2 separate regions of the Homo sapiens genome follow, and region 2 is reported to be linked to region 1. The links are microRNA targets in miRTarBase. Many come from high-throughput screens and were not tested one by one. Region 1 holds a microRNA gene; the other region holds the end of a gene's coding sequence.

The links. Region 1 holds the annotated microRNA hsa-miR-6758-3p (ACUCAUUCUCCUCUGUCCAG, at 1,215-1,234, opposite strand). A microRNA usually pairs through its seed, bases 2 to 8, with sites in the 3' UTR of a target mRNA and lowers its output. Matches are read on the target gene's strand: a 7mer-m8 pairs with bases 2 to 8, a 7mer-A1 pairs with bases 2 to 7 and ends in A, and an 8mer does both.
Region 2: the mRNA of STARD8 is a reported target of hsa-miR-6758-3p. Seed matches in the 3' UTR shown: 7mer-A1 at 2,680-2,686.

Annotation. Positions count from the first base shown.
Region 1 is chr12:57,509,965-57,513,964 of GRCh38, reverse strand. It overlaps MIR6758 (microRNA 6758), which reads right to left and starts at 1,277; the gene lies at 1,215-1,277. MARS1 (methionyl-tRNA synthetase 1) reads right to left here. Exons shown (of 21, transcript NM_004990.4): 12 at 2,097-2,267; 13 at 1,862-1,957; 14 at 1,612-1,729; 15 at 1,001-1,214. It also overlaps the pseudogene LOC124903093.
Region 2 is chrX:68,724,169-68,728,168 of GRCh38, reverse strand. It overlaps STARD8 (StAR related lipid transfer domain containing 8), which reads right to left. Exons shown (of 15, transcript NM_001142503.3): 15 at 2,333-3,864. The coding sequence ends at 3,747. Among named protein-coding and RNA genes, the nearest start is that of STARD8, 79 kb to the right of the region's middle.

The DNA.
Region 1 (4,000 bases):
CAACCTCTTGAGTAGCTGGGATTACAGATGTGCGCCACCACGCCCGGCTACTTTTTGTATTTTTAGTGGAGACGGGGTTTCACCAGGTTGGCCAGGCTGGTCTCGAACTCCTGTAGGTAAGGACTATTTATTAAATGTGGTTAATTACCAAAGCTGAAAGTGAGTAGCAGGACTGACCTATAAGGGTCCAGGGCTCAGAGAGTGTGACTAAAGAATCCTAAATTCTGGAGAATACTGCTTTAGATTGCAGAAGAGCTGAGATAGGCACCAATGATAGAATGTGAGCCTAAGGTAACAAAAACTCTGAACTCTGAAGAGTATAGCAGAAGCCTTTTTTTTTTTTTTTTTTTGAGACAGGATCTCCCTCTTTTGCCAAGGCTGGAGTGTAGGGGTACGAGTACTGCTCCACTGCAGCCTCAATCTCCCAAGTTCAAGAGACCATCCCGCCTCAGCATCCTGAGTGGCTGGGACTACAGGTGTGCGCCACCACGCCTGGCTGATTCTTTTTGTAGAGATGGGAGATTCATTATGTTGGTCAGGCAAGTCTTGAACTCCCGGCCTCAAGTGATCCTCCTGCCTCAGCCTCCCAAAGTGCTGGGATTACAAATGTAAGCCACCATGCCCAGCCCACAGAAGCCTCCTACCCCCACACCAAAATAACCCCTTTCTTCAGCCAAACTTTTCAATGATCTGCAGGTGAACTATTTTGCTGGGAGAGAATACATCTTCAATTCTACAAAGAACAGTAATAAGGAAACAATTTACAAAAACCCACTTTATAACCAACTTTGCTAAATCACATCTCTACAGCTAACTGTTCCATCAAGCACACATAGCCTAGTATGTGCTAGGAACAGATCCCAATTAATAGAAATCAACTTTCCACAGTGTCCTCACAGCCTCCTGCCCATTTTCTAGTTCTCTCCACATTCCCATCTCCTGAGGGAAAATGAGCCCCACCCCAGCTCACTGCTAACTCTGACCCCTTACCAAGTCCTACCTGTTGATGAAGTTGCCCAGGTTGTTAAGCAGCTCAGAATTATTCTTCAGCAGCAGGTCCGTCCAGGAGAAAGCACTGTCCTGGCCCTCAGGCCGAATGTACAGCAGATAGAAGCGCCAGATGTCAGCAGGGATCCCCGTGTCCTGGGCCATGTCCCCAAACACTCCCACACCGCGGCTCTTAGAGAATTTCCCATCCTCATAGTTCAGGTACTCTGGACAGAGGAGAATGAGTGAGAACCATCTGCTCACATCACATCCTTCCCCTCTCTAGCCCACTAACTCTTCCTTCTTTCCTCTTTCTAACCTCAACTATGGGTGTCTAGCAACATTTCTCCTTAAGGGGCTGGTATGCTCAGATTTTGGGAGTCCCTTCCTATCCATTCTGGCCCTTTTTTCTCTTTGCTTATATCTACTAAAGAGTTTTAGCTTTAGACTTTTGCTTTCTTCAGGTTCTTGTTCGTTTCTCTAGGTTGAGTTCTCATTTTAATTATTTCCTATTTCAGCTCAACTCCTAACTCAAGATAGCAGCTCTCCAAGATCTTTTTCCAAGTACTGCCTCACCCCTCATTTCCTATGAACACCCCATCAGTAGTCTTCCAGGGTACTTACCTGTAGCAATGAGGTGGCTGACCAAGGTATAGTTATCCTCAGCTCCTAGGGCTGAGCAAGGAAAGACTAAGCTATGGAAAGGAACATTGTCTTTGGCCATGAACTGATACAGGTCCACCTAGGGGAATGTGGTTAGGAGAGATTTCCTGAGACCTCCTTCAAAGGCCCAAGGAAGACCAGACACCCAACCCTAACACCCACACCCTACCGCCTACCCTCCCCATGCACAGCCTAACCAAGAACTGCTCACTTGCTCTGGGTTCTTCCACCATCTCTCCCACTGGTCTGTGTAGTTGGCTGTGATGGACAGATAGCCAATAGTGGCATCAAACCAGACATAGAATACCTGGAGGTCAGAAGGAGGTAAACATGTTAGGGACCAATCCAAAGTCTCAAACTGAAACAAGACATAATCAGCAGTCTACTCTGCTAGCCCAGGGTTTCAACACTAAGGCTGAATGATATGAATAAAAAAGGGTTTTTACCTTGTCTTCAAAACCTTCTAAGGGTACAGGGGTTCCCCATTTGAGGTCTCGGGTTATGCAGCGTGGCTTGAGGCCATCCCGAAGCCAAGAACGGGTGATAAACTGGGCATTGGGTGTCCAGTCACTGCCAGGCAATGTCCTCCCCAACCACTCCTCCAGTCGCTTCTCCAGCTGAGATAACGGAGAAAGAGGGCTGATTTAGGAAAGTCTCATATATGGTTAGCATAAGGATAAACACATATAACCTTTTTGGAGCACAATTTGGCAATATATAACTTTTTTTTTGGAGACAGAGTCTTGCTCTGTTGCCCAGACTAGAGTGCAGTGGTGCAATCATAATCACAGCTCACTGCAGCCTAAACCTCCTGGGCTCAAGCAATCCTCCTACCTCAACCTCCCCAGTAGCTGGGACCACAGGTGCACACCACCATGCCAGACTGTAATTTTTGTAGAAACAGGGTTTTGCCACATTGCCCAGGCTGGTCTTGAACTCCTGAGCTCAAGCAATCTGCCCACCTCAGCCTCCAAAAGCGCTGAGACTACAGTTGTGAGCCACCCTGCCCAGCCTTAACTAGATTTTTAACACACAGCCAGGGGCAGTGGCTTGCGCCTGTAATCCCAGCTACTCCGAAGGCTGACGCAGGAGGATCACTTGAGGGCAGGAGTTCATGACCATCCTGGGCAACACAGCAAAATCCTGTCCCTAAAAAAAATTTTTTTTTTTTTAATTTTTAAAAATATGGAACACTTCACAAGTTTGCATGTCATTCTTGTGCAGAGGATGTGCTAATCTTGTCCATATCAGGGTCTCACTGTCACCCAGGCTGGAGTACAGTGGCACATCATGGCTCACTGCAGCCTCAACCTCCCAGGCTTAAGTGATCCTTCCACCTCAGCCTCCTGAGTAGCTGGCACTACAGGCACGTGCCACCACACCTGGTTAATTTTTGTATTTTTAGTAGAGATGGGTTTCACCAAGTTGCCCACCCTGGTCTCAAACTCCTGGGGTCAAGCAATTCTCCCGCCTCAGCCTCCCAAAGTGTTGGAAGTTGGAATTACAGGCATAAGCCACCGTGCCCAACCAATTTTTTCTTTTTTTAAATACAGACAGGGTCTTGCTTTGTTGCCCAGGCTACTCTCAAACTCCTGGCTTCCAGCGATCCTCCTGCCTCAGCCTCCCAAAGTGCTGGAATTACAGGCATGAACCACCATGGCCAGCTGAGGAAGTGCAAAAAAGAAAAAAAAAATTTTCTTTTTTTTTTTTAAGGTAGGGTGTCACTCTGTTGCCCAGGCTGGTCTTAAACTCCAAGGCTCAAGCAATCCTCCAGCCTTGGCCTCCCAAAGCATTGGGATTACAGGTGTAAACCAGCATGCCCAACCAAAAAAAAATTTTTTTGAGCTGGAGTCTTGCTCAGCTGCCCGGGCTGGAGTGCAGTGGCACGATCTCAGCTCACTGCAACCTCCCCACCTCCAGGTTCAAGCGATTCTCCTGCCTCAGCCTCCTGAGTAGCTGGGACTACAGGTCGGTGCCACCACGCCTGGCTAATTTTTGTATTTTTAGTAGAGATGGGGTTTCACCACGTTGGCCAGGATGGTCTCGGTCTATTGACCTCATGATCCGCCTGCCTTGGCCTCCCAAACTGCTGGGATTACAGGCGTGAGTCACCATGCCTAGTCAATTTTTTTTTAATCAGCCAGGCATGATAGTACACGCCTGTAGTCCCAACTACGCAGAAGGCTGAAGCAAAAGGATAACTTGAGCCCGAGAGTTTGAGAGTGCGGTGAGCTGTGATTGTGCCACTGCACTCCAGCCTGGGTGACAGAGTGAGACCCTGTCTCTAGAAAAAAATTTTGTTTGAACACACTTGGCTATATACCCTTAGTCTAGGGGAGGAATCAGGATT
Region 2 (4,000 bases), not on the chromosome of region 1:
TAGCCCCAGCCCTATCCCCTGTGTTATCTCCATGCCAGACTGCCCTGGGCTTTTTTTCATCACTGCCCCCCACCCCCCCAGGCCTTGAGCAAGGAACTCGGAAGCTTTGTTACGAATAGATGTAAAGCTCCTGGCTGTCATTGCCATCATCTTTGCCTATACCAGTATGTTCTGCTCCATCCACACCACTGGGGCCCACTTGCATGGTGCCATCCCCCCATGAAGTCTCCATTGCAACATGCTTCTTCATTGTCTTCACTGACAATGGGCAGATGCTGGCTGCTCATCTTTGTCCTGATGGGAGAAGAACCCACCCACTCCTCACTATCTTGGAGCTGGAGATCCCAGATGAGAGGACCAAGTTCTCCCTATGGAGTCTCACTGGCAGGAAAGACATGGGGCAGGCGGGGGGCTGCCATATTTTGATGTCTGCTATGTGCAAGGCACTGTGCAACCTGCAACCACGTTCACAACTATTGGCTCATTTAACCTTGACAACAACCTTACAAGATATAAATGATTCTTACCCTTATTTTCTGAGAGGGAAATCAGAAATGTTAAATGTGCCACTTAAGGTCACACAGCCAGGAAATGATATAGCTAGATTTGAGCCTGGGTCTGACCACCATCTACCCTCAGCCACTCTGGCAACAGGGCACTGGAGACTAGGAAACAATAATCAAAGCTCACAGGCAGATTGTTAGATTTCTATGCAGGATTCCCCTGCAGCCTGGCTTCTTTGAGGCAGTGGGTGAGGGAAAGCACAAGAGTAGACTATGGGCAGCAGGGCTGGGAATTTGAAGGCATGTTCTCTGGCACCAGGGAAATGAAGCCTACTTGGGGTGAGCAGAGGTACAAGACTCAGGGCTAGAAATGGCCAGGGGTGGTGCTTGCTTTGTGGGTGGGAATGAGAGGCCTGGGCAACCTCATCATGAAACTCATTCCTACATCTAGAGGCACAGTAGAGTAGGCAGAGATGAGGGATGGGAGCTCTGCTTCACACAGGATGATGTTAAGGCCCAACAGAAGCTCTCCTACTTGGAGCTACCTCTTCCATAATGCCAGACACTGGGCTACTGGGTCAGGGTAGCAGAGTCCAGAGCTGCAAGGTTGGGGGAACTCTCTGGCCCTTCCAAGAGCCTCCCTCCTCTTTATCCATCTCCTAGCAACCATCATCTGAGTGCTGAGTCCCATCCTCTGTACCCTACCACCAACCTCCTTCCAAAAGAAGGTGGGCAGTGCTTGGGCCAGAAAGCCCCAATGCCTTCCTTAAGAACTACTGGCCAGAAAATCACACTGGTGTCCCTTAAGCCCAGCACCACCAGAGTGATCTCCCAGCCCATACTCACACACAAGGCACCTCCATTTAGTTTTCCCAAAGGCAAGGGGCTGACTGGGTCCTCTGCTCTACCTCACTCACTTCCAGGGCTAGCCAAGACCCCTAGGTGACAGCAGTGAAGAAAGGCCAAGGCATGTAGGGACAACTGAACCCAAGAGAGAATGGAAGGAGGTGATAGAGCAGCGGGACTGGACAGGCACCTCACTGTTCAGGCCGGGTCGGAGTGCAGACTTGGGTGGTGCAACCTGAACACTTACTGAGACAGGCTTGTGGAGAGGTATGACTGGCCTCGTTTGACCCATGAGGAGGTTGAGGTACCCAGAGAGCAGGGCTTCCCTGCCCAGGCTACTGACAGCACTTCAGGGATGCAAACGTCCAAAGCCTGGACTTTCTCTCTAGCTGCTCTTCGGAGCCTGGGAATTTTATGGCCATATAACATGATAGAGGAAAGCCCCTTCCTTCGGGGAAGTCAAGATGAGAGGGTCTCTCTAGCCCCCTGGGCTTTGCTGGTCACTGGAGCCAGACCAGAGGCTGCCTTAAGGCACTCCGACCTCTTAGGTTGGCTTACAGGTGGCACAGGGCCCCCTAAGCCTCCTGGGGCTGGGACTTCACTCTTCATTCAAGCTGTTTAGAAGGGGAAGGAATGGCCGCTTAGCCAGGCTCACCTCTCCCTAGGATGCCTGAGGTCATGCTTGTGGCCAGGTCATGAGATGGGGTTTGCAGCTTCTGCCCAAGTTCCGGCTAACTTTCCACCCCTTCTCTGCCCCACCCCCCCACCACCATGTCTGGCTGCAAATCCCTCTCCAAAGAGAAGAGCTGAGGCCCTCCCCATTCCTCTTGTGGACTCACCCAAGTCCTGCTGCCGGTAAGCTAGGACTCAGCAGAGGGTGGGGTGAATGCTTAATGCTCTGAGCCCTAACACTGAAGCCTCAGTCACAACCCCAGTCCCCAGTCCCTAGCCCATTGTCAGCAAAGACAGCCACACAGTTAAAGTGCATCTCTGGTAATGCTTTATTGATTTGAGGGATCCTGCTGCACCTGGCTCCCTACCTCTCCATTCTCATCTGAAGTGCCCCTCAGGCCTTCCAGACACTTGCCCCCACCAGAGATTATAATACACTCATGAGAATTGATATATGTGTGTGTCTGTGCAAATGCGTGTGTGTATATATATGTATGTGTATATATATACACACATATATATGTGTGTGTATCTCTATAAACACATATACACACACACACACACACACATATATATATATATATATATATATTAGCTGTACAGTATTTACAGGTACAAATAAAATAGGCTTGAAAATTACAGTGGTGGTTGGGACCCATCTCATTTCAGTTTACTCAGCAGATAGAAAAATAAAGCACCAGTGGCCTTTGAATGGCATTTGAATTTCCATGTGAGCAAAGATGGCTGGCCAGTGGGACAGAACAGGTTTGGCTTAAGCTCCAGCTGGCTAAGATAGGCCCTTCCATCTGGCTGGCCCAGGGGCCAGGTCTCTGCTTGAGAAAGGGGCTGTTATGTTAGCCCACTACCATAAGCAAAAGGGATGATGACATAGACCCTTGTCTCTTAACCACACTCTGCTTTTGCTTGGCCTGGGCAGTGTCAGTGCGTGGCCAAAGGCTACACAGGACCCCATGGGGTGGTCGATAAAGTGTGAAACCCAAGTCAGGGAATACTGGTTTCACTGGCATCTCGAGACTTGAGAAAGGAAGGTACTCCACTCTCACATCCCTATCTATGCCAAATCGTCATGTCACATATTAGGGGCCCGTCAGTGCCCACTCTTAACTCAGCCTCATAAAATTCAGCATCGTATTTACACAAATGAAACAGCTCGTGGTGACTGGGGCTGCCCTGCGCTCCACCCCTGTGCCCATTCACTCCAGTCCAATTCCTCTGAAAAAGACACTTCAGAGCCAGCGTTGGCCCCAAAGGCAGGACCAGAACCTCCTGTCCAACCTCAAAAGCATCCTTGCAGCAAACAAGACGGCTTGCCCTCTCAGTCTGGCAGAGAGCTGGGATCACACATTGCTGTCGACCTCTTTGCCCCTGCAGGCGGGGAGCTGTGGAGGCTTCATGCCAAGTGGCGGCCTCACAAGCAGGTGGCTGGTGGCAGCAGTCTTGCTACTCATGCGATTCTCTTCTCTTTTCGGGAGAGTAGAATACAGGGTTGGGGGTGAAGGGGGAGTGGAGTTGCCTAAATTCTCTTTTTCTCCCCTCTATGTGCAGAGGAGCTTTAGGAAAGGGGACAGGACAGGCAGCTGGAGCCACCTGGGCCTGGCTCTGCTCCTGACAGCGGCACCCAGGGGGCTGCCCTGCTCTTATTCCCCCTCGCTCCCTTGGTGCCCAGGGGGCCTGGGTGGTGCCACCCTGGGACCAGCCCAAGGCTCACAGCTTTGTCTCAGGGCCCGCTGCCTGCAGGGTGGGGAAGGAGTCCCGGATCTTTGCCACTTCCATGGCACACAGGTGTCCAAAGACTTTGTTGTACCAGTCAGGAGAACGGCCCCTAGGGAAGCAGAAGAAACCAGGCATGAGCAATGGATTTTTCCCCAGAGCCCTCACCAGGGAGAAGGAAGAAAGGACTTGTCCCCAGCCCCAGGGATCAATAGCATGGGGCAGAAAGTAGGGGCAGAGGCAGGGGA